3 separate regions of the Homo sapiens genome follow, and regions 2 and 3 are each reported to be linked to region 1. The links are microRNA targets in miRTarBase. Many come from high-throughput screens and were not tested one by one. Region 1 holds a microRNA gene; each other region holds the end of a gene's coding sequence.
What was found. Region 1 holds the annotated microRNA hsa-miR-212-5p (ACCUUGGCUCUAGACUGCUUACU, at 4,505-4,527, shown strand). A microRNA usually pairs through its seed, bases 2 to 8, with sites in the 3' UTR of a target mRNA and lowers its output. Matches are read on the target gene's strand: a 7mer-m8 pairs with bases 2 to 8, a 7mer-A1 pairs with bases 2 to 7 and ends in A, and an 8mer does both.

Region 1 (7,898 bases):
CTGGGGCTTTGAGCTGAGCGCTCCCATGTACGTATTTCTAGGCACACAGCCCCAGTTCGGAAAAGTCCTGCCCGCGAGCACGGGACTCGGGTGGTGGGGGAGAGGTTATCCTGCGCAGGAGTAGCCGAGCTCTCCTGGAACTCCCCGTAGACATTACTGTACGGCACTGTCCACTTGGACGCACTCCCCAACACACCCACCCTCACTCAGGCGCATGGATTCGGTGTGCGCGGCATAAACTGATTTGTCCCCAGCCCTATCCAGGCACTGATACTAACAGGCGCTCATGTTTCCAGAAGCACACCCGCCCCTTCCCGCAGCCCTAGCGCTCTGGGATACTCCAGGGGCAGCCACGTAGGGCCCTCCGGGAACCTGGGCAGAGGTGTTACCCACACAGCCCGCCCTGAACTTTCGGGTCTCCTAAAGGAACCCACGACGAGTCATCAGGGCGACTGGAAGTGGCTGGACAGCGCCTCCGGGGGGTCCAAAGAAGTAACCATGGGGCCCTAGAATCCCCCTGTACGCCGTTTTGAAGAATCCCGCGTGGACTTCTTCTCCAACCCACCCGCCCGAAGGAAACAACAGGGGCGCCTGCGGCTGGGACCCCGCAAGGTCCCGCGCCCCACGTGAAGGTCAGGTTTGTGTGGGTGACGTCTCTTCTGGGAGAAAGGGGACCCCGCACTGTCGCGCCGCTGCTCGCAGTACTACTCCGGAAGTGGCCCCGTGCAGCCCCGCCGCGCACCAAGCCTCCTGCGAACGCCGGATCTCCGCGGCCCACGCTCCGCCTCCGCCCCGCACCTCCTGACCCCCGCCCACACACGGCGTGGAGCGGGGGGGGGGGGGGTCCCCGAGAACTCCGCCGCTTCCGATTGGCTGCGCCTCCCTCCACCGCGGAGCGCGAGGGGCTGGGGCGCTGCGTTACCATGGCAACCGGTGAGGTGCGCCCAGATCCTGTCCCTCCGAGGCCTTGGAGAGCTTAGCAACCGCGCTCGCCGCCCCCCGCGCTGTCCTCTGGCCCCCATGGCCCCGCCAGAGGTACCGGCTGAGTCACCGGGCGAGGGGCAGCGGGCGCGGCTACCAGCGGCCCCCGAGCGACACCAAGGTCTCGGGCGCCCCCCGGAGGCTCCCTTTGCTGCGCAGGCGACTTCACGGCTTCGGTGCCTGGCGGAGGCTTCGGTCCAAACGAGTCCGCCTGATTCCCGCCGCTGCCTGAGTCCGCCCCATGTTCTGGATCCATCTTACCCACTCCCTCTCCCATGTCTCCCCATAGCATCCTCACTTTAGAAGCAGTGAGGTCCCAAAGAGGAAAACGGAGGCCTCCGGAGCTGCCGGTCTCTAGGGAAGGCGGACCCCGACATCTCGCCCGAGGGACGTGCTGCGGCCTGAGGTGGAAGTTACGGAGTGTTGAGGGGAGGTGGAGAGGCTCCTCATAAGTGCTCCTAGAGCTGGGCTTTGACGGATGAATAGGAGTTCTTCTACCGAGCAGGAAGGCATTTGTGAATAACAGAATCCCTGGAACAAAGGCTAGCGGCAAGAAAACTGGAGCTCTAGTAGGCCAAATCCAGACTATGCAGGGCCTCTCTGACCCCATCTCTTTTATCTTTTCTCTTTTTGATAGAGTCAGATCCCCCACCCCCGACTTCCAAAGAGCCCCTCCGCCCCATGTATCTTGTGCAGTGGAGTCTGTGCATTGCTAACCTGCCCCAGGGGTCTGCTGTGCCCACAGTCTTTATTCTTCAGCGTTCCCCCACATCCGCTCCCCAAGTTAACTTACTGCCCCTAACCCCATCCTCAAGCCCTCATTGCTTCTGTAAGGGAGGGTCTCACAGCCCTGCCCCAGCCCAGGCCCCTAACCCCATCCTCAAGCCCTCATTGCTTCTGTAAGGGAGGGTCTCACAGCCCTGCCCCAGCCCAGGCCCCTAACCCCATCCTCAAGCCCTCATTGCTTCTGTAAGGGAGGGTCTCACAGCCCTGCCCCAGCCCAGGCCCCTAACCCCATCCTCAAGCCCTCATTGCTTCTGTAAGGGAGGGTCTCACAGCCCTGCCCCAGCCCAGGCCCCTAACCCCCTCCTCAAGCCCTCATTGCTTCTGTAAGGGAGGGTCTCACAGCCCTGCCCCAGCCCAGGCCCCTAACCCCCTCCTCAAGCCCTCATTGCTTCTGTAAGGGAGGGTCTCACAGCCCTGCCCCAGCCCAGGCCCCTAACCCCCTCCTCAAGCCCTCATTGCTTCTGTAAGGGAGGGTCTCACAGCCCTGCCCCAGCCCAGGCCCCTAACCCCATCCTCAAGCCCTCATTGCTTCTGTAAGGGAGGGTCTCACAGCCCTGCCCCAGCCCAGGCCCCTAACCCCCTCCTCAAGCCCTCATTGCTTCTGTAAGGGAGGGTCTCACAGCCCTGCCCCAGCCCAGGCCCCTAACCCCCTCCTCAAGCCCTCATTGCTTCTGTAAGGGAGGGTCTCACAGCCCTGCCCCAGCCCAGGCAGGGTGAGGACCGCCTTGCCCTCCTGTGCACTTCACTCTTCGACCTTTCTCTCCCTGCCCCGCTCTTCCGGCCATGCCTTGCACAGCCCTCCCCATCCTGGTCCAGCTCCTCGTCTGAACACACTCCTCTCATTTAGACCCTTCCTCCATCTCGATGGAGCCAGGCTGGGCCAGGACCATGCATTTCCCCGCTCCCAACCAGGGGAACTGCCCCACAAGTCATGGGCTCTCCCTGCCAATTCTGGTCTCCGGGAACATTAACTTCTCCAGGAAACCGTCCTCCTCATCCCCTGGGGGCCCCTCTTGGCCAAGCTGCTGGTCTCCTTCACTCTCTATTACCCTAACGTGAGCTCTGGGAGCGTCCATCGTGCCACAAATGGTCCGAAGGTGGGTCCTGGATGCCAGGCTCTGGAGCGTGGCACTGACAGCCTTTCCTCTCTCCCTTGCTGAGGCTGCCCATTCCTCTCACCCCTACCTCTGGCGCGTTCCCCCAGCTCCCTCATAGAGGATCCCGTTGCTCATCATTTCTGGGGAGGTTGGCCCACCTTCCCCAACTTCTCTGCCGTCCCTCGGGTCTCCAGCTCCTGGGTGGTACCTGAATCCCCGCTGGGCCTTCCCTCCCAGGCCCAGGTTCCTCCGCTAAAGACTCCTGGGCTACTTTGGGCTCCCCTACTCTTCTTCTCCCGGCCCCCGACGCCACAGCCCTCGCTGCGCCCCAGGCCCCCACGGGAGTCCAGCTTCCTCTCCTGCCCACCCTGCAGGACGAGAGGGTGGCGACACCGCAGTGGCCTTGCGGGGTGTGACGGCAGAAACGTCAGGTCCAGGAACTGAGGAGGGGGAAGGGGCTGCCACGTGAAGACCCCCAGGAGCCGCGGGGCTCCGGAAGGAGAGCGTGAATAAGCTCGAAGGGCCCGCCGCGCCCCTCCGCGCCGCCTCCCCGGCCCCAGGCCCGCGGTTCCGGAAAGTTAACCCCTTGTCGGCTGGGCAGGGGCGCGGCTCCCCCTACCCCGCCGCCGCTTCCGCGCCCCCTCCTCCCCTCCCGGTCGCCTCGGTCCCCACCCCCCGCCTCGCCACTATAAATAGCCCCTTTTCCCATTTCCTAAATTCCCCGCTGACGTCGGCAGCGCGTCAGTGTGTAGGAGCCGCGGCCGCATGAATGAGCCGCCGCACGAGTACTACGCGCGCCTATAAAAGCCGCCGCGCCGGCCAGGCTGCGGGAGGCGACCGGGCAGTGGCGACGCGGCCCGCCAGGTAAGCGGGACGGACCAGCCGCGGAGGGACAGATGTGCGGACACGGACGGGAGGACGAGGAGGGGACGGGCAGGCGGCGGGTGGGGCGGCCCCTCCGGGGTGGGGATGGGGGCGGACGGGGGGCACCGGGGTCCCCTCGCGGCTGCGGAGCCGGGGCCAGAGACGACACGAGCCCGCGCAGCACCTGCCGGCGCCCGATGGACACGCAGCTACTTCGGAGGAGCATCGAGTGGAGGACCGACCTCGGAGACCCCCCCCCGGCTTTCTTGGGGCTCCTGCGCCATTCTCCCAGGAAAGTGAGGCGAAGGTGCTGGCGCCCCAGGAGACGCGCCCCCTCCTCTCCCTCCCTGCGGCGCGGTGACTCAGCCTCGCTGCCCGGGCCGGCTGAGCGGGGGTGCAGGCGAGAGACGGACGCCCACCCCCGCTTCCCCGGCCCTCCTGGGACCCCCGCCCCGCATGGCGTCGGGCGCCCCTTCCCGGCAGGTCCCGTCCAGCGGGTCCCGCGGCGCCCACGGCTTCCCGCCTCTGCGAGCGGAGCTGTCCTCTCAGGACCGGGGGGGCGGGGCCTCCCAGGTCCCGCCCCGCCCCCACGCCCCCGCCGGAAGTGCCCCCTCTGGGACATCTTTGACGTCACGGCCCTCTGACGTCAGGGGCCGCGTGCCTGGTCGCGAGCGCCGGGCGGGGCAGGGCGGGAGACGCAGGGGAGGCGGAGCAGCAGAGCCCCCAGCCGGGGCAGCCGGGGCGACCGGGGCACCCCGCCCGGACAGCGCGCCGGCACCTTGGCTCTAGACTGCTTACTGCCCGGGCCGCCCTCAGTAACAGTCTCCAGTCACGGCCACCGACGCCTGGCCCCGCCCCAGGACCGCGGCCCCGGCCGCCGCCGCCGCGCCCGGGGACCCCCAGTCCCCGTCCCTCAGGGCCCCGCCCCCGGCCCGCTGCCTGCGCCGCCGCTGTCCGCGGTGCTGATCAACGCAGGCGCCGCCATCGGGCCGCCCCGTCCGGGTCCCTAGGGGCTGCGAGGGGCGGTGGCCCACGCGCGCTCCTCAGCCCCCGCCGCCCCGCCCGCCCCCCCGCGGCCCTGACGTCAGCCCGCCCCGCGCCGGCGCCGTCCGCGCGCCCCGCCCCCGCGTCTCCAGGGCAACCGTGGCTTTCGATTGTTACTGTGGGAACTGGAGGTAACAGTCTACAGCCATGGTCGCCCCGCAGCACGCCCACGCGCCGCGCCACGCCGCGCCCCGAGCCGCGGGCTGGGGACGCGGAGCAGAAGGAGGCGGGGGCGGCGAGTCAAGATCCCACGTGCCCGCGCGGGTGGCAGGAGGTGCTGCGCAGGGAGGCGGCCTCCCGGGGCCGGCGGCTGAGTCCACCGAGGCTCGAGCGCGCGCGTCCTGCGGAGTGCGTCTGGCGGCCAGCCTGAGGCCGTCCTGTCCTCCCGGCCAAGGTATCCCAGCCAGGGCTCGGCGAGAGAAGGGGTCGGGCTGGGACTCGGGTTCTTTCGATTTCGGTGAGAGGGAAGCCACTGGGACCAGGAGGCTTGGAAGGAGGTTTGTCTCCTGGGGCCTGAAGACAGTAGAGGGAGGAAAGTTTTCTGAGATACTCCACAGCCCCGTTCTTCCAGGAACCCCTAGCTGAAGTGGGCATTGGGCGAAGAGTAAACTCTTGAATCTTTCCCTCTGAGCTAGGAGGATAAGAAGGGTCCCCAACCCTCTGGAAGCCAATGAGCTTGTAAAGTTAACCTGGTCCGCGAAGCGTCTGAACAGATCAGCCTGCTCACCTCAGCCTATCTCTAGGTGCTGGATTCCAATCTGAGACAGTTTCTCAAATTAGCCCTAAAGAGGAGTGAATACCACAGGGGCTGAAGTCCTCTGGTGCGGATGAAGTGTGAACAAGGATCTCTAAAAATATTATTGTATATGTCGCCTGCCTCTGCCAACATCACCCACTACAGGGGATGTCTATTGAATATCAGGTGTGAGACTTCCCCAGAGATAGTGTTGGGAATGGTTAATGCAACCCAGCCCACGACACGTTAATCCAATTTTTCTTAACGTCTCACGCCCCACCCCCTCCTTCACTCCCCACCCGGCTCCTTTGTGAAGTACTTCTAAGACACTCGTGCCGGTTTCCCAGTTAATCAACACCCACATGCTAGCCATCCCACCTCCCCAGGGCCCCGAGGTCTTGCAGATTAAAACGCACTTGCTTCTGGGTTCCAGGGGATGTCAGTGGGTGGACTGCAGTGGACTGCTGGGTGTAGTGCTCTGGGAAGCCAGAGGTCCAACCTGGCATTATCAGCAACTGGTGGTTAAGGGGCCATATTCTGTTTCTGAGCTTTCTGTAAAACGGGATAATAATCTCTTCTCCTCGGCAGGTGCACTGTGAGGATTAAATAGGATCATGTAAGTAAAAATCCAAAAACAGCAGAATGTTATTTTGATCTTAAGTATTCTGTTAGGCTACTACATGTTTGTGAAGGGGTGGTGTTGGGAGGGGACCCCAGCTCTGTGCACTTAGGCAGAATGAACGGGATGTGGGGGGTACACCTTGAGCTTTAGGCTATATATATTTATTGTCTAATATATATATAATCTATATTATATATATGTTATACATACATATACTTTTATTTTTTTTCTTCTGAGACAGTCTCGCTCTGTCGCCCAGGCTGGAGTGCAGTGGCACTATCTCGGCTCACTGCAACCTCCGCCTCCCGGGTTCACTCTGGGCCTGGGGCTGTTGAGAGGTTCCTTGCTAAGGGGGTTCTCTCTCCTAAGAGCTCTAGGAATCCAAGGTGGAATCAGAGGTGGAAAACAGAAATGGTTGGGATATTCTGAGAAGAGGTCAGAATGTGGTCAGAGGGGAAAGAACCAGAGGATTGACCGTACGTCAGGGTTGTTTAGCATCTTAGAAATCATTTAGGGCAGGGCACAGTGGCTCACGCCTGTAATCCCAGCACTTTGGGAGGCATAGGTGGGAGGATCTCTTGAGCCCAGGAGTTCGAGACCAGCCTGGGCAATACAATGCGACTCCCATCTCTACAAAAAAGAAAGAAAGGAAAGAAGAAAGGAAAGAAAAGAAAGAAAATTAGTTGTGCACACCTGTAGTCCCAGCTACTTGGGAAGTTGAGGTGGGAGGATTGCTTGAGGCTGGGAGGTTGAGGCTGCAGTGAGCTGTGATTGCACCACTGTACTCCAGCCTGGATGACAGAGTGAGACCCTGTCTCAAAAAAAAAAAATCATTATTTAGGGCTGGGAGACATGGCTCATGCCTGTAATCACACCATTTTGCGGGGCGGGGCAGAGGCTGGAGGACTGCTTGAGCCCAGAAATTCGAGACCAGCCTGGGCAACATAGTGAGACCCCATGTCTTAAAAAAAAAAAAGCCAGTGTGATAGGTGGCACCTGTAGTCTCAGCTAAGCTACTCAGGAGGCTGAAGCGGGAGGGTCACTTGAGCCGAAGAGGTCGAGGCTGCAGTGAGCCATGATCCTGCACCTGGTGACAGAGGTAGACCCTGTCTTAATAATAATCCAGCCTGGCCAATATGGTCAGACTCCGTCTCTACTAATAACACAAAAAATTAGCCAGCCATGGTGGTGCTTGCCAGTAATTCCAGCTGCTTGGGAGGCTGAGGCACTAGAATCACTTGAACCCAGGAGACGGAGGTGCAGTGAGCCGTGATCGTGCCACTGAACTCCAGCCTGGGTGGCTGAGTGACACTCCGTCTCAAATAATAATAATAATAATGGTACCTACCTCATGAAGTTGTGAGATTAAACATGAAGTTGTAAGGTTTAAGCTATATATATTTATTGCCTAATATATATAAAATATATATGTGTTATATATATATAATTTTATTTGTTTTTTTCTTCTGAGATGGAGTCTTGCTCTGTTGCCCAGGCTGAAGTGCAGTAGCATGATCTCGGCTCACTGCAACGTCCGCCTCCCAGGTTCAAGCAATTCTCCTGTCTCAGCCTCCTGAGTAGTTAGGACTACAGGTGTGTGCCACCACCCCCAGCCAATTTTTGTAGTTTGTTTTTTTTTCTTTTTTTTTGGAGACAGGGTCTAGCTCTGTCTCCCAGGCTGGAATACAGTGGCACAATCACAGCTTACTGCAGCCTCAAAACTCCTGGGCTCAAGTGATCCTCCCACCTGAGCCTCCCGAGTAGCTGG
Region 2 (7,898 bases), not on the chromosome of region 1:
AAAAAAAAATCTTAAAGGGACTATAGTTGATAGATTATTGTCAGTTATCTTAATTTTTTCTTAATCCAAAAGAAGCACCTACTTCAAAATCATAAATATGGTACAAAAACATGATTTCAAAACTGAATCTCTTTAATGTATTTTTTTTCTTTTTTAATAGCCCCCAACAATGGCAACCAAGACATGTCAGCCTGGTTCAATCTGTTTGCAGACTTGGATCCACTTTCAAACCCAGATGCTATTGGACACTCAGATGATGAACTTCTTAATGCTTGACTGAAGTTATAATGTCACTTCAGTGGCCTTGAGACATCAATTTTGCAACGTATTTCCTTCGTGGAAAGGATTTAGATTGTAACCCGCACACAAAAGCACGGTGTTTGTGAATATAACACCTGTCAGCCAACTTTAGACAGATGGTAAAGACCACATTTGAATAAGTACACATCTTTCATATCTTGGATTTGCAGCTGTTGGTACTATGTGGAAAATATTAGAAACTTCTATGTGGAAAATATTAGAAACTACAGAGTTTGCGATATTTAGATACTGAAATTTATGTCAAAATAACGGCTAGGAATAATTCTGTCAATATGGAGTTGAGCTTATTTCTTTGGAAACCCTTTTAAGTTGCCTTGCTGGCTGTGAGAATTTTATATGTGGATAACAAAGATAGATAGATAGCATGTAAATTGGGTTGTGGTTTGGGGTCAGTTTTTAAATGAAATAGTAGCGAGGAGGATTTTCTGTTTTGGAAAACACCATTAGAACCAGACCAGCTTTGTTTTGGGTTAGAGAGAGTAAGATTTGAGAACTCAGTTTGCTTTAATGAAATCACAGAGAAACTTGGTACTTGTTTTTCTTCATTTGGAGGCTAAAATGTAATGTTTTTTCATTCATACAAAATAATGGACACTCCCTAATTCCATTATTAAATCTTGAAGGGGAAGTAGCAGGATAATTAATTTGCTAAGCCCATCCTCTGCAGAAACAGAAAAATCTATCTTCCCATCTCCTAAAACTCAGAATGCACAGTAATACTTAAGGCTTGTACAAGTGTCTTCAGACCCACTTTTTCATACACTTGCTATATAGTAGTATGCAGTATTTATATTATTCCTGAAAATAAAATGAGGGGAGAATATTCCCTAAGCAACTGGCAATAGTATTCCTGAAATACCTAGAAATTTCTATCTGAATGAGGGAGACACTTATGAACACCTTATCCTTACATATATTTGCATACTTATCTCATATTTTGTGACATAATTATTTAACCCAGAATACTTTCTGGCAGACATACAGAAAGCTCTGTGTGATCAATAAGGGAGTGTCTCATTTTTCTACTTCCCTCTTTCTGTGGGTGACATGATCTGAGGTTCTATTTGATTACTAAGCAAAATCTGTTACCCCTACAGGGTTTAGAACCTAAGTATTAGAGAGGAAGGCTATTTAATGGAAGTTAGTGTAAGCTGATAAAAACGTAGCTACCGTACACACACATCAATCACTCAATTTCCTGTCCTTTTAAATTGCCCACCCTTTAATTTTGAAGCAATTTCCCAAGTGTGTGTTTGTTTTATATTTGTCATCCAGTCCATTGCATTTCCATAAGAAGACATTTTGACTGGCTGGGTGCGGTGGCTCACGCTTGTAATCCCAGCACTTTGGGAGGCTGAGGCAGGCGGATCACGAGGTCAGGAGATGGAGACCATCCTGGCTAACATGGTGAAACCCCGTCTCTACTAAAAATACAAAAAATTAGCCAGGCGTGGTGGCACGTGCCTGTAGTCCCAGCTACTCCGGAGGCTGAGGCAGGAGAATGGCGTGAACCCGGGAGGCGGAGCTTGCAGTGAGCTGAGATGGCGCCACTGCACTCCAGCCTAGGCAACAGAGCAAGACTCCGTCTCAAAAAAAAAAAAAAAAAAAAAAGACATTTTAACTAAGTTATTCACAGTAGCTTCCATGTGCTCTTAGTTCTATTCTAAACAGGCTTATTTAGAAAAGGATTGCTTGTAATGTTTGTCATGGTACATAGAAAACATTGGACCAGAGTAGGTAAAATGCAGTCCATGTCCCATCCATAGCCATCTACAATAGTAACTGCCCACAGGCTCTCCAGAAAACTACTACAATGGCCAAGTACAGTATAGGCTGGAAAGACCTTATCTGAAGGTCAGAAACATTGACTCAGAAAAAAGGTATGAAGTCTTTCCATAAAATCTTTTCACAATATTACTCCTATTTCTTTTAGATTTTAATGAGCCATTACTTATCTCTTCAGAAGACTTAAGTCTTCCTTTATACTCAGTGAAATTTCCCAGAATGTAATACTGTCACTGTTCTGCCAAGTTCCAATCACCAAGATCATGATTACGAATCCCAATCTGAATTCTATACCCATGGTGACTCTGATGCTCTCAACTTTTGAGTGCCTCAAAAAATGCTAAAACTTTGGCTGGGCATGGTGGCTCACGCCTGTAATCCCAGCACTTTGGGAGGCCATGGCGGGTGGAACATTTGAGGGCATGAGTTCGAGACCAGCCTGGCCAACATGGTGAAACCCTGTCTCTACTAAAAATACAAAAATTAGCCAGGTGTGGAGGTACATGCCTGTAATCCCAGCTACTCAGGAGGCTGAGGCAGAAGAATTGCTTGAACCCAGGCGGCAGAGGTTGCAGTGAGTCGAGATTGCACCACTACACTCCAGCCTGGGCAACAGAGAGCGACTCTCTCAAAAAAAAAAAAAAAAAAAAAAAAAAAAGCTAACTTTATGTCTTGAGAGTTTGTACCATTTTTCTTTGTAGTGGTCACCTTGCTAATGCATTAGTTCTGAGATATTTATCTCCCTCACATGTGTGCAAGGAAGTCCCTGTTATCGAATACAGATACTTTAACAAGCAGACAAAGCAGAAACCCAAAGTCCATACTAGGAACACCCTAAATTTTCCAAAAGCAAAAGTTCTCCCGAAATGGAGACATACAAGGGACTTTTATTATTCTGTTACTAGTTTCTATAACATTTCTTCTTTCAACAGAGTATATGTTTCCCATTTAACCCAGAGCAACATTAACTTCCTTAGCAAGTCCAGTTCTAACTTCCAACAAGTCCAACCACTGTTTTTGAAGAGCATATCAGTAACTATATTAAGATGAAGGTAACCACATTCGTATTTTCTCAAGATTAGTTATTTGAAGCTCAGCAGTTTTTGTGGTCAGAAAGAAATTTTGCTCTATTAAACCAATACTGCTAATATAAAAAACCACCACACTGAAGAAACGAGGGAAAGGACGGGATAAGCACAGAACAGAGAATGACTGGTTGCTTTTTGTCTCAATCTAGATAATCCATTCAATAAGAAGTAAATTAATTATCCTTAACCAATGGTAGGCTGAGAACAACCCTCAAAATAGATATTTTTTATGTTAAATGGGGAGAAATATCTATACTTTATGTTATACTGGATAAAAATGTGTTTTAAGTCTAAAAAAAACCAGACGAGCTAAACTTTGCCTAGTGTGTCTACAACCATTTTTTAGGAGACGCAGGAATACCAGGGCATAATAAGATCAGATTGGTGTAATTTTGTATGTTTTTGAAATCCTTCATTAATTGTAGAACCTTGATATGATTAGAAACAAACTGTATTTCAACAAACAGGTTTCAGTATTTGCACACTGAAAAAGTGTTTTGTATTTTAACTATAAATATTTCACGTATCTGTATAGACCATCTAGAAATGTAGAGGTCTTACAGCATTAGAACGAAGGAAGTTTACATGTGCTCTATCTATTTTTCTGAGCCTCTTTTAATAAAGATTGCAAGAAGGCATAAAACAAGAGTTTGTTTCCTGAAGTTTTTAGTACAATTATTGTTTTCCTATTCAAAAACTTGGGTTTTACCTCAAGATCATAGTATTAGGAAAGTACATTGAGTTGATACGGACATGGGAGAACGAAAATAAAACCAGGGCAATTAATATCCTTGTAAGGCCAGGCGCGGTAGCTCACGCCTATATAACAGCACTTTGGGAGGCCAAGGCAGGCAGATCACTTGAAGTTGGGAGTTTGAGACCACCCTGGCCAACATGGTGAAACCCCATCTCTATGAAAAATATAAAAATTAGCTGGGCATGGTGGCAGATGCCTGTAATCCCAGCTACTTGGGAGGCTGAGGCAGGAGAATCGCTTGAACCCGGGAGGTGGAGGTTGCAGTGAGCTGAGATCAGGCCATGCACTCCAGCCTGGGTGACAGAGTGAGACTCCGTCTCAAAAGAAAATCCTTGTGAGATGAATTCGTTCTTATTTCATATACAAGGGGACTATGTAAGATATGGGAAATAATATAATGTACGTTATTTATGTAAATACTTTCAGTAACAAAAACTAACAAATATCAAAAATCTGAGCCTAGACACAAACAATTAAATATAAGCCATAGTATGTAACCTGACTTATTGAAGGCAGGAATAAAAAGAAGAGAGCCAGAATTGATTCAGTTATTTTTGTCTTCCATAGTGTTGGCAGGGCCCTGCATTTCTCTACCTTGAGCAATGAAGCAGTCCCAGAATTTTGGAATATAGAAATTAGGAAGGAAAAACGAACTTTAAAATATTAATTTAGTAGAACTGAAAGTAATGCATTTCATGCAACAGTAAAGTGCTTAAACATGGCAAAGAAAACTAAGGGACAAGATAAGAAAAATGGTTGGTAAAGATGGGTCACATCCAGAAGCCCAACATAAGCTATTTTTCCATCTTTTTCTGTACCATTTAAAAGACTACTAAAGAGTTCAAAACAAACTGTCCTTGGCATTTAAAGTCAAAACATGGTTCTTCACTCAGTGGTGTAAATTAACTACTCATTGGCCAAAGAGTAAATACAAAAAGGAGATGAAGTTCTGACTGGTGTTGTGGGTGAGATTTTGCAGTGTATGTTTTTACATTTGTAGTGTACGTTTTAAACTTCCGGTTTTCTTGCTGCCTCAACATCTCCACAAACAGGCTGTGAGCACCTGGCCCAGTGTGATATGGGTGGCCCCTGCCACAAGTTTCCCTTGCTACCTTGCCCATGACCTAGTAACATTTAAATGCACCAGTGAAATTCTCTTTTTCTTGTGTGCTTCTCCCTGACCCAAAGGCTCCTGCCCATGTCTTAGGCCTCTCCGCTCCCCACCTGCTTGGCTGAGCCCCCTCCCATGTGACCCCCTCTCAGCATGCAGTGACTGGTCTCTCTAGGACCTGTGAGTATATTACAACTTTTTTTCCTGTGTCTCTCCTGTGATATCTCTTGTGGCTAAACCTCACTGACCATAACCTAAAAAAACACATACAAAAAACATGAAAGAAAAAGTTGTTTCTTGAGCTGGCCTGGACGAACGGGGAGCCAGGGGCTCGACCCTGGCTGTTGGAGGCGCAGTGAGGCCTGGTCTCCGGCTGCCAGACCACGCTGAGCGGAGCGCGCGGCAGGCTCGCCTCAGCGCTGCGGGGAACGCGCGCGCCGCCGTCCGCGGTCGCCCGTAGGTGCCTGCACGCGTCGGGGTCACGGCCTTTGGCCGACAGGAGCGAGAAGACTCAGGAGCCGCCCCGCGCCTTCGATCCGGCGCTGCTGGAGTTCCTGGTGTGCCCGCTCTCCAAGAAGCCGCTCAGATATGAAGCATCAACAAATGAATTGATTAATGAAGAGTTGAGAATAGCTTATCCAATCATTGATGGGATTCCTAATATTATCATATTAGGCAGCTAGGATGACACATCAAAGAAGCAAGAAGTGGAGCAGCGCTAGTTCATAATTTAAAAAAATAAAACAGCCAACTCTTCTTAGTACCATATACCTTTTAAAACACAGTGGCAAGTAATAAGCGGAAGAGAAGAATCTTTCTGTCTCTTTCTACGTTGACTGTTCTTATTCCACTGGTTTATTTAGCAGGACTGTTCCACTCAGCCTCTGTAGAAGAAAACTTCCCACAGGGCTGCACTTGCACAGCTAGCCTTTGCTTTTACAGCCTGCTCTTGCCTATTACCATACCGGTGTATGTATTCTTCCACCTTTGGACCTGGATGGTTATTAAACTCTTCATGCATAACTGATGCAACTAGAGTCAATATGCTGTATATATTAATGATAGCTCTTGGGCATCTATCTCTGAAAGCTCAAATGGATGGAATTTAGTTTGTGGGAAAGAGGCTTTGCTTTGAGCATATCAGGCTTAGGACTGTGGACGGCTTAAGTTGCAGACGCTTCTTTTATTGTACTCTTGTTCTGCCCGTGTTTTTTGAAGGCTCTGACATAACTGCTTTATCAGAAGAAACATTTTGACAGTGTCTTGTTGGAGATAAACATCCCTAATTGACATGTGATGACTACTTCTTATTCCATTCATCTAAGAGTCATTGAAATTTTGTTTTCTTTGTTTGTTTAGCTTCAAGGTCTTTGGTAGTCACATGTTAGGGATGACTGAAATAATTCCAAAGGAGTGATGTTGGAATAGTCCCTCTAAGGGAAAGAAATGCATTTGAACGAATGTGATATAAAACCACATAATCAAATAGAAATTTCATGTACTTACAAAAATTTAGTTTGTAAAATTACCTTCATTTCTTTGACATTAAATGCTTATATTAGCAATAAAGATGTTGACACTTTCTCATAAAAAATTTAAAAAAATAAAAAGTTGTTTCTTTTTTCCCATTTTAAAGTAATATCTTCTGAAAGAAAAAAATCAGCCATAGCACTACCATCTAGGAATAACCACTACTAACATATTTTTGGTTATTTTTTTGTAGTGCCTTCAAGCACACATTTGAATTGTGATCCGGATGATTTTACTGTCCCCTCTCTCTTAAATGGGCATGCCAAGTCACAGAGATTTAAAAACCAATTATAGGCCGGGTGAGGTGGCTCAAGCCTGTAATCCCAGCACTTTGAGGGCCGAGGCAGGCAGATTGCCTGAGGTCGAGAGTTTGAGACCAGCCTGGCCAGCATGGTGCAACCCCGTCTCTACTAAAAATACAAAAATTAGTCGGGCCTGGTGGCAGGCGCCTGTAATCCCAGCTACTGGGGAGGCTGAGGCAGGAGAATCGCTTGCACCCAGGAGGTGAAGCTTGCAGTGAGCCGCGATTGCCCACTGCACTCCAGCCTGAGCAAAAAACCAACTATATAAGTCTTTCCCTCAAAAAAGCCAGGTGAATTAAAAACCCACCAGAAATGTGACTGAAGTTCGTTTTCGCCTCTCTAAAACATGTGCTCCCCAAATTAAAGAGTATTTCTTTTTATTTTCTGCAGCTATAGCAACATTAAAAACCAGAGAGTTTGAGAATGTGTCACTAACATCCTTGATCAGGAGCCGATAACTAACCAGCTCCTTTCTTTTGACCCTCTGAACTAAGCTGCCAGCAGCTGTAGCAATGAAGAGGATCACAAAGAACCAGGCCGTGTGGCCCAATGTCACATAATCTGCAATGACTCCAACATCTTTATTTTACCAGCGTCACTGGTGCAAGCAAAGTAGCAGTAAGACTACATGATTAACTCTGAATTCCAGAGTCAGACTTGGTTCAAAGCCAGTCTCTGACGTTTCCCAGCTGTGTGACCATGGAAAAGTCAACCTAATTCCAATTTTGTTATCTGTATGATAGTAAAAATAGCAGTACCTGGCTTCAAAGGGTTATTATAAAGATTAGGGTAAAAGTAATATGTAAAGTGTCCGATATTTGGTAAGCTATCAAGAGGCATTATCAATTTTTATTACAATTTCAGTTTATCTTTGACGATTTTAAACTTTACAAGCTAAAATGAATTTTATGAGAACACTTCCCATGACCAAAAACCACTGGCTCCCCTATGGAATGAATAAACTTACGTGACAAAATATGAAGGCAGATAAATGTTTGCTTACA
Region 3 (7,898 bases), not on the chromosome of region 1:
GTTTCACCGTGTTAGCCAGGATGGTCTCGATCTCCTGACCTCGTGATCCACCCGCCTCGGCCTCCTAAAGTGCTGGGATTACAGGCGTGAGCCACTGCGCCTGGCCCCAGCTGCTACATTTAAAACAGACATGGCCAGGCACAGTGGCTCACGCCTGTAATCCCAACACTTTGGAGGGCTGAGGAGAGAGGATTGCCCAAAGTGAGGAGTTCGAGAGCAGTCTGGGCAACATGGCGACATCCTATCACTACAAAAAATACACAAATTAGCCAGGTGTGGTGGTGCACACTACTCAGGAGGCTGAGGTGGGAGGATCACCTGAGCCTGGGAGGTTGAGGATGCAGTGAGTTGAGATTGTGACACTGAACTCCATCCTGGGTGACAGAGCAAGACCCTGTCTCAAAAACAAACAAACAAGAAGATCCCAAAAAACCCAACAAAACCAAACAAGCATGGGGGTGTGGGTTGAATTAAGGGCATGTATTCCTAGTGTTTGTATCTTAACTTCCTTAAGGGCAACAGATGGCCGGGTGCGGTGGCTCACGCCTGTAATCCCAGCACTTTGGGAGGCCGAGGGAGTGGATCACCTGAGGTCAGGGGTTCGCGACCAGCCTGGCCAACATGGTGAAATCCTATCTCTACTAAAAATACAAAAATTAGCCAGGCAAGGTGGCGGGCGCCTGTAATCCCAGCTACTCAGGAGGCTAAGGCAGGAGAATCGCTTGAATCTGGGAGGTGGAGATTGCAGTGAGCTGAGATTGCACCACTGCATTCCAGCCTGGGCAACAGAGACTTCATCTCAAAAAAAAAAAAAAAAAGCAATGGTTGCAAATGTTCTGAGTTCAAGTCCCAGCTCCATCTCTTCCTGGCTATGTGATCTGAGCAAGATCTTGTCTCTCTGTACTTCAGTTTCCTTCTCTGTAAAATGGGGATGACTCCAGTTGCGGATGAGCCGCGTTCATGGGCAAGCAGTGTGTTCTACTGAGTCTGCGCCTACCTAGTAGGTGCTAATCGTACGTGAGGTTTTTGTTTTTGTTTTTTTGCTGATAAAGGAATGCAAGGAGGAGGCAACCACGTGTCCAAGGCTGTGTGTGGTTTTTCTTTTTTTAATGTCTGCTGTTAATAAAATATTTTTACAGAGACCAAAAAGTCAGAATAGTGCAAAACATCTCAACACCATGCATTCATGACCACTTCTCGTTTGTGTTAAACATTTGTTCCAAGTCACATATTTACAGAGAAATGAAGGCGTCTGTGCAGACACTGGACCGACGGGGTAGAATCAAAACAAAACAAAAAACAAACAACGTTTTGATTTCACATCTGCAATCACATGCTAAGAGTTGTGTGGAGGGGAAGCCTCCCCGGACTGCTTGGCCGGTTTGTGGGGGTCTGAGGGAGCACGAGACAGGGGTGGACAGGGGTCAAGTCCCCCTGGCTGTGTGGTTGGGGATGATCAGGGGACCCTCCGCCTGTGACCTGTGTCTCCAGAGAGCCACTATGGCTGGACGGGGGTAAGGGGTGGGGTGTTACTTGACACAGTCAACTTGATTTTTCTCTGAAACAATAAAAGGCAAAGAGAAAAGCAACACGTGTCAGCAAAGACAACTTTGGTCCTCAACGATTCTTAGGAAAGGATTCTGGGGAGCAGACGGGGTTGTGATCCGGGACTAAGGCCCTCCCCCAACTTCCCCAGGGTGGCAGAGTTCCGGGAGGCCCCAGGTTGTCCCCATCTGCAAAATCGACAGCACATGGGGTAGGGGTAGGGGACAGAAAGGCTCTGAGATCCCAGCCGAGAGAGGTCCCAAGGATTTCTAGTTGGGTGTTTAGTTTTTTGCATCTCTGATGGGGGCATGGTGAGGTCTCAGGCTCTGGGGCCTGAGAGAGGAATTGGGGGTGTGGACAGGCACCTCCTCATTTTATGCAAATCATTCGAGGACAGACTGGTAAGAGTGAACAGATCCTTCTTTCTTCAGGACACCCTCTTTACTTCCCCCGACACTCCCTGCCTTGGTCTCTGCATTTATCTTTCTCTGTATATTTCCACCTCTATGTCTCTCTCCATCTCTGTCTCTCTCCGTCCTCATCGGGGCGTGATCTCACCCTCTGTCTCTGTGTTTTCTACTCTATTCCTCTTGGTCAGGGGACTTTGACTCTGAGGCATCCCTCAATGTCACCCCTTTAACCCTTGCCCTGCCACAGGCCAACCTTCTTGTGCTGTTTCCCCGATTCATGGAAATGTGGGGCCAGCTCCTTGCATAAAGCGAGGTCCAGGGTTCAGAACCCTGGAGGTGTCATCCAAGGCCGGGCTCTGTGTCCACTTGCTGGGTGGCGTTGAGGAAAGCCCTGCTCCTCTCTGGGCTTTGTTCTGCCAATACAGGAACTTCCTGATTTCAAAAGGCTTTCAGCCCCCTGGACTCCTTGTCTTTTCTCTGTCCGTGTCTCAGCCATGTCCACTCTCTGTCCCATGTGTCAGGCTCAGACACCTCCTATGTGCCCAGGTCCGTGTGGAAGGGGAAGGTTGGTACGGACAGACATGGACAGACATGCATGCGGATGTGTATTCTCACACTGACCCTGCCCCAATACATAATTCCACTAGGCGTAGACTCCCTGTCACCCACTTGTGCCCAGCCTGTGCTAGGTAAAGTTGGGGGTCCTGAGAGTCCTCAGACCCCAGTCTGGGAGAAACAGAGCTGGACAGAGAAACCCCCAGTCCCATGGCATCAGGCTGGACTGGAGGAGAGACGGTGGCTGGGAAAGTCCTGAGGGGAAGGAAGGAGGGTTTTCTCCAAGAGGGGTTTCCGTGATGGGTTTTGAAGGACGAATAGGAGTTCTCTGGGGGAAAGAAAAGAGGGTGGAAATTGCAAAAACAGTTCTAGCCTGGGAGTCAGGAAAACTCATTCAACAAATATTCCCTGAAGAAGCTTGTTTCCTTCACATGCCTGGGCCATTGCTGGGGAACCCTAAACACACACACACACACACGGAGGTCTTGAACAGAAAGACTCCTAAGGAATCTTTTGGGAAATAACTTGGCTCTCTCAGGCAGCTCGACTTCCCCATTTCTTTCCAGCCATCCAAAAATCTTCCAGATCACCCTCACCCCAGGTCACAGATCACTTCCCCTTTGGGCTCTATGGGTTACAACCCTGAATCATCCATCCACCCGACCCCTACCCTCAGCCATGTCATGGTTCGAAATTCACATCTGCTCCTCAGTCCATATAACAGTCACATAAGCTTATCCCTGGCTACAACTTCCCAACCCTGTATGAGAATTTGCATTTTAACCTTTGGTTCAGAACCTCCAGTTACCTGCACCTGTCTGAATTTAAGGGACATGCAACATCTCCAAGCAAATTAGAAAGTGGCGCCACTTCTTCCAGACACTTGGGCCATTCACATGTCGGGAAACCAACGTCACAAACATACAACACTCAATATCTAGGATTTGCACGTGGCCTTCTTAGCAATGCCAAACCCTTGGGCACTGTGCAACTGGGACAACTGTACTCAGCAGCCCTAGAGCTCATCTAAGGGCAGGATTTTTTTTTTTTTTTGGTGGGGTAGAGGGGAGGGAATGGAGTATTGTTCTGTTGCCCAGGCTGGAGTGCAGTTGTGTGATCACGACTCACTACAACCTCTGCCTCCAGGGTTCAAACAATTCTCCCGCCTCAGTCTCCTGAGTAGCTGGGACTACAGGCATGCACCACTGCACCCAGCTAATTTTTGTATTTTTAGCAGAGATGGGGTTTCGCCATGTTGGCCAGGCTGGTCTCAAACTCCTGACCTTAAGTGATCTGCCAGCCTCGGTCTCCCCAAATGCTGGGATTATAGTCATGTCCCCACAGCTATAGGTGTCTTTTCAACACAGCCTTCAGAATCTTTCCAAGAATCCATTTCAGTGTCCCCAAAGCACCTCCACCTCTCCTCACTGGTTTTAGTCTTCACAAAACAGCTTTTGCAGGCTGGAATCCAGTCTCTCCCCAACTTAAAACAGCTCCTGGAGCTCCCCAACTGTCTTAGAATAAAAGTAAAACTCCTCAGGACTGCGTACGAGGCCCTGCCTGGTCTGATGCTTCTGCAGATCTCCCCAACCCCAAGGCTCCTCACGATCCCCCTTGCTGGCTCAGCTCCAGCCGTGCCACCCTTCTCGTTGTTTCAACAGTTCTTCTCTCCTGGCCTTCGCACGTGCTGTTCCCCAGGCCTGGAGCTCTTTTCTCTCTAGTAAGTGGTTCCCTCTCATTCTTCACCTCGGAAAGCCTCCCCATCTGATGTTCTATCCTCCAGAAACCCAGCTACTCAGCTCACCCCGTTTTCATTTCTCCCTAGCACAGCAAAATCTTGTCCTTCCCAATCCAGCAGAAAAAGGCGTGCCATACACACATGTGGAAAAGCAGATCCCAGAGCAAGTGTAGTCCACGCTGAACTTTCCCCTAAGGTCCTATGTGCACCAGGTAACTCCAGCCAGGTCACTGTAACTTTGCTCATTGGAGAAAGAGCTTCCAGCTGGCAAGAGGGCCATCTGAGGTATCCTGTGGCTTGGGTGTTTGAATCAATGAATAGGCTCTTGGAGACTAAGCTCTCACTGTGTCACTGTGTTTGTGTTTCTCTCTCTCTCATTCTCTTTCTCTCATTCTCTTTCTCCCCCCTAGAGTTTCTGGTCTCCTTCTGTTCTTTCCTATTTGGAAAATTCTGGAAAAGGAAGAAGGGATGGAGAAACCTGGGACCAGGGGATCCCAAATTCTCTTTTGTGGTGGGAGGCCCTCATGGCATCCCCCATGGAGATCCCAGGAGAAAGGGCTGAGGGCAAAGGTCCTGCTTGGCAGCCGGAGAAGGAAAGGCGAAGTAGGGGTCTTGGCCTGGAATTCCCACCCCTTGGAGGAGGCCGAGGGGGAATTAGCAGCAATAGGGAGCTGTGTCAGGTCATCCCGATCTCAGCCCACCCTTCCATGGGGCACACAGGCCTAAGGGAGGGGCACAGAGGGTATGGCACCTGGAACCTTGGCCAAGTCTCAAGCAGCTCTTTAAGCCTCAGTTTTGCCATCTGTCAAATGGGTGTGTTGAACTCTATGATATGAGGACTGGGTTTGTTGGGGGAGAGGGAGAGGCAAACTCCCAAAGGGAAGTAGGGGCAGCGTGGGGAACCAGAGCCGTCCCCTCGGCCCCCAGGGTTTGGGCGCCCAAGGGCGCATGTGCTTTTGAAATCCCATCCTCCCCCCTCCCCCCATTTATTTTTTGCACAAATATCTAAAGGGACTCCGGTATTCCGGGGCCCTCCAACCAGCATCCTGGTCCCTCCAGTCCCCAGGCCACCTAGAGGGGCGCTCCAGAGAGCCCTACCCCTTGCCCAGGGCCCCCCCTCGAGGGAGCTGAGATTTCCATACTTGGCAATTGGTCTGGGGTCCCAGGGGTCTGGGTCCCATCTTATGGCTTTTCCAGGGGACATGAGGTGGTGCCTCCCGGTACCAGAGCCCCGGGATGTGGCCTCCTCCATAGGGACGAGGTTTCCCCCATCCCAGCTCAAAATGCCCCCTAGGTGCTGGGGGCGTGGCCTCAAGTTGGGGATGTGGCTCCTTCCTTCGTCGCGCCCTTGGGCGTGGCCTCCCGAGAGGGCGGGGCATCCTCCATTCCTAATTCCCCAAAAGGGAAAGCTGAGTCAAGGGCGTAGGCGCAGCCCACCCTTGGCGTGGAGCCCCCCGAGCCCCGCCCCTGGGGAGGTCCCACCAAGGCGCAAGCCCCGTCCCTCCCCGCCCAGCGCCCTCCGCGCAGGCGCAGTGCCGCTCGGCCGACCGCCCGCGCTAAGGCGCAGGCGCGGCACCGCCCTCCTCGGCGGAGCGCGTGTCCGACTTGAGCTTCACGAACTCCTTGGCCACCTCGTCGTTGCTGCGCTGCGAGAGGATTCGCAGCACCGTGAGGCCCGTGTCGTCCATGTGGATGCGGCGGCCGAGCGGCAGCCAGCAGGCGGCGCTCCCGCGCTGGGCCAGCTCACGCAGCTGCAGCACGGCCAGCCCCACCGTGCGGTCCTCGCGCGCGAAGCAGTAGTCCTTGACGCACACCTGCAGCTCATAGCACTCGGGACCCGCGTCGGCGCTCAGCGTGCTGCGTGGGGAGGGGCGGAACGTGAGACAGGCCACACCTACTGTGATGCCCCGCCCACGGCCCCGTCCCCACCGCATTTGCGGGCCACGCCCACACCGGGGTGCCCACACCTGTCACCTCCCACGCTACGCTAGCCCCGCCCCTGCCCCGTTACTTGACCTACAACCCTGTGCTTGGCCGCGCCCACAGCAGCTGACCCCGAGCTGGGCCACGCCCACGCCTGTTCTTCCCATTTTTCCACCCACCGAAAAATGACCGCATAGTTTTACATCCAGCTCCCGCCCCTCAGACACCGCCCTGCAAGGCCATGCTCCCACCCTGAGATACCCGCGCCTGTGCCCTCTGCCGGCTGAACTGCTGCCCGCACGGCCCTGCCCCTAATGTCCCACCCAGAAGCTCTTTAACCAGGCTCTCCTCTAGACCCACGACGTGGCCCTTTCCCCAGCCCCCCACACCCCCAGCCCACCCCTCTTACTTCCAAGATGCCCTCCAGACATGAGCCTGCCCTGGTGCCTCACCATGGGTGACACCGCCTCCCGCATGCCCCTCACCTGTGCTCCTGCCCCTAAGCAGTCCCAGTGACCTGCCCTGACGCCAGCTGGATAAGAGCCCCTCCTACAGGGTCACGCCCAGCTTCTCCCTCTTGTCCACCTCCCAGGTTGTACCTCTATCCCTGAAGTACTCCGGCCCACCCTGGCTGACATCTGACCTCCCACTAGACCATGCTTCTCCTCCTGAGTATCCCCTAAAGGGGCCAATCGCCCCAAAACCTTCTGACCAAGAGCCCTGTGCTGACACGACATGGAACTGGCTTCAATCTTGTCCCATAAGAGCTCCCAGGCCCCCTAGATAATACCAGCTAACCAGCTCTGATTTACCCTTACCCCTGTGCATTTTTATTTATTTTTATTTATTTTTATTTTTTGAGTGGGCATCTCCCTCTGTCACCCAGGCTGGAGTGCAGTGGCACAATCGCGGCTCACTGCAACCTCTGTCTCCCGGGTTCAAACGATTCTTCTGCCTCAGCCTCCCTAGTAGCTGGGATTACAGGCATGCACCACCACACCGGGCTGATTTTTTGTGTTTTTAGTACAGATGGGGGTGGCGGGGGGGGGGGTCTCACCATGTTGGCCACGCTGGTCTCGAACTCCTAACCTCAGGTGATCCACTGCCTTGGCCTCCCAAAGTGTTGGAATTACAAGCGTCAGCCACCGCGCCTGGCCCATAGTTTTTTGTTTTTTTAAAGACAGGGTCTCGCTATGTCGGTCACCCAGGCTGGAGTGCAGTGGCACAATCATAGCTCATTGCAGCCTTAAACTCCTGAGCTCAAGCGATCTTCCTGCCCCAGCCTCCCAGGTAGCTGGGACTACTTTCTTCTGCACTTCTGTCTCCTAAGAACATCCAACAACATTGCCCTGCCCCAGTGCTCTGTGAGGCTGACACTCGACCCAAGGATCTACCCCGGATGACCCCAACTCTACCCTTGCTAACCACCACCATCCATCTACCCCCGTGAACAGACTTTTTTTTTTTTTTTTTTTTTGAGGCAGAGTCTTGCTCTGTCGCCCAGGCTGGAGTGCCGTGGTACAATCATGGCTCACTGCAACCTGTGCCTCCTGGGTTCAAGCGATTCTCGTACCCCTCACCCTCTGGAGTAGCTGGGATTACAAGCGCCTGCCACCACACCCGGCTAATTTCTGTATTTTTTATTTTTTTGAGTCTCACTCTGTAGCCCAGGCTGGACTGCAGTAGCGCCATCTTGGGTCATTGCAGCCTCCACCTCCTGGGTTCAA

Region 2: miRTarBase lists ICA1L as a target of hsa-miR-212-5p. Seed matches in the 3' UTR shown: 7mer-m8 at 4,036-4,042.
Region 3: the mRNA of UNC13A is a reported target of hsa-miR-212-5p. Seed matches in the 3' UTR shown: 7mer-m8 at 5,686-5,692 and 7mer-m8 at 5,006-5,012.

What each region holds. Positions count from the first base shown.
Region 1 is chr17:2,046,957-2,054,854 of GRCh38, reverse strand. It overlaps MIR212 (microRNA 212), which reads left to right and starts at 4,475; the gene lies at 4,475-4,584. It overlaps MIR132 (microRNA 132), which reads left to right and starts at 4,847; the gene lies at 4,847-4,947. It overlaps LOC124903896 (a long non-coding RNA gene), which reads left to right and starts at 4,906. Exons shown (of 2, transcript XR_007065576.1): 1 at 4,906-5,694; 2 at 6,097-6,148. RefSeq lists silencers at 719-1,188, 4,192-4,341, 4,352-5,151 and an enhancer at 2,751-3,646.
Region 2 is chr2:202,771,911-202,779,808 of GRCh38, reverse strand. ICA1L (islet cell autoantigen 1 like) reads left to right here. Exons shown (of 13, transcript NM_001288622.3): 13 at 161-6,633. The coding sequence ends at 276. It also overlaps the pseudogene PIGYP1. Among named protein-coding and RNA genes, the nearest start is that of ICA1L, 96 kb to the left of the region's middle.
Region 3 is chr19:17,600,250-17,608,147 of GRCh38, forward strand. UNC13A (unc-13 homolog A) reads right to left here. Exons shown (of 44, transcript NM_001080421.3): 44 at 1,087-6,105. The coding sequence ends at 5,805. Among named protein-coding and RNA genes, the nearest start is that of COLGALT1, 49 kb to the left of the region's middle. RefSeq lists enhancers at 4,668-5,572, 5,573-6,477 and silencers at 5,562-5,821, 6,192-6,411.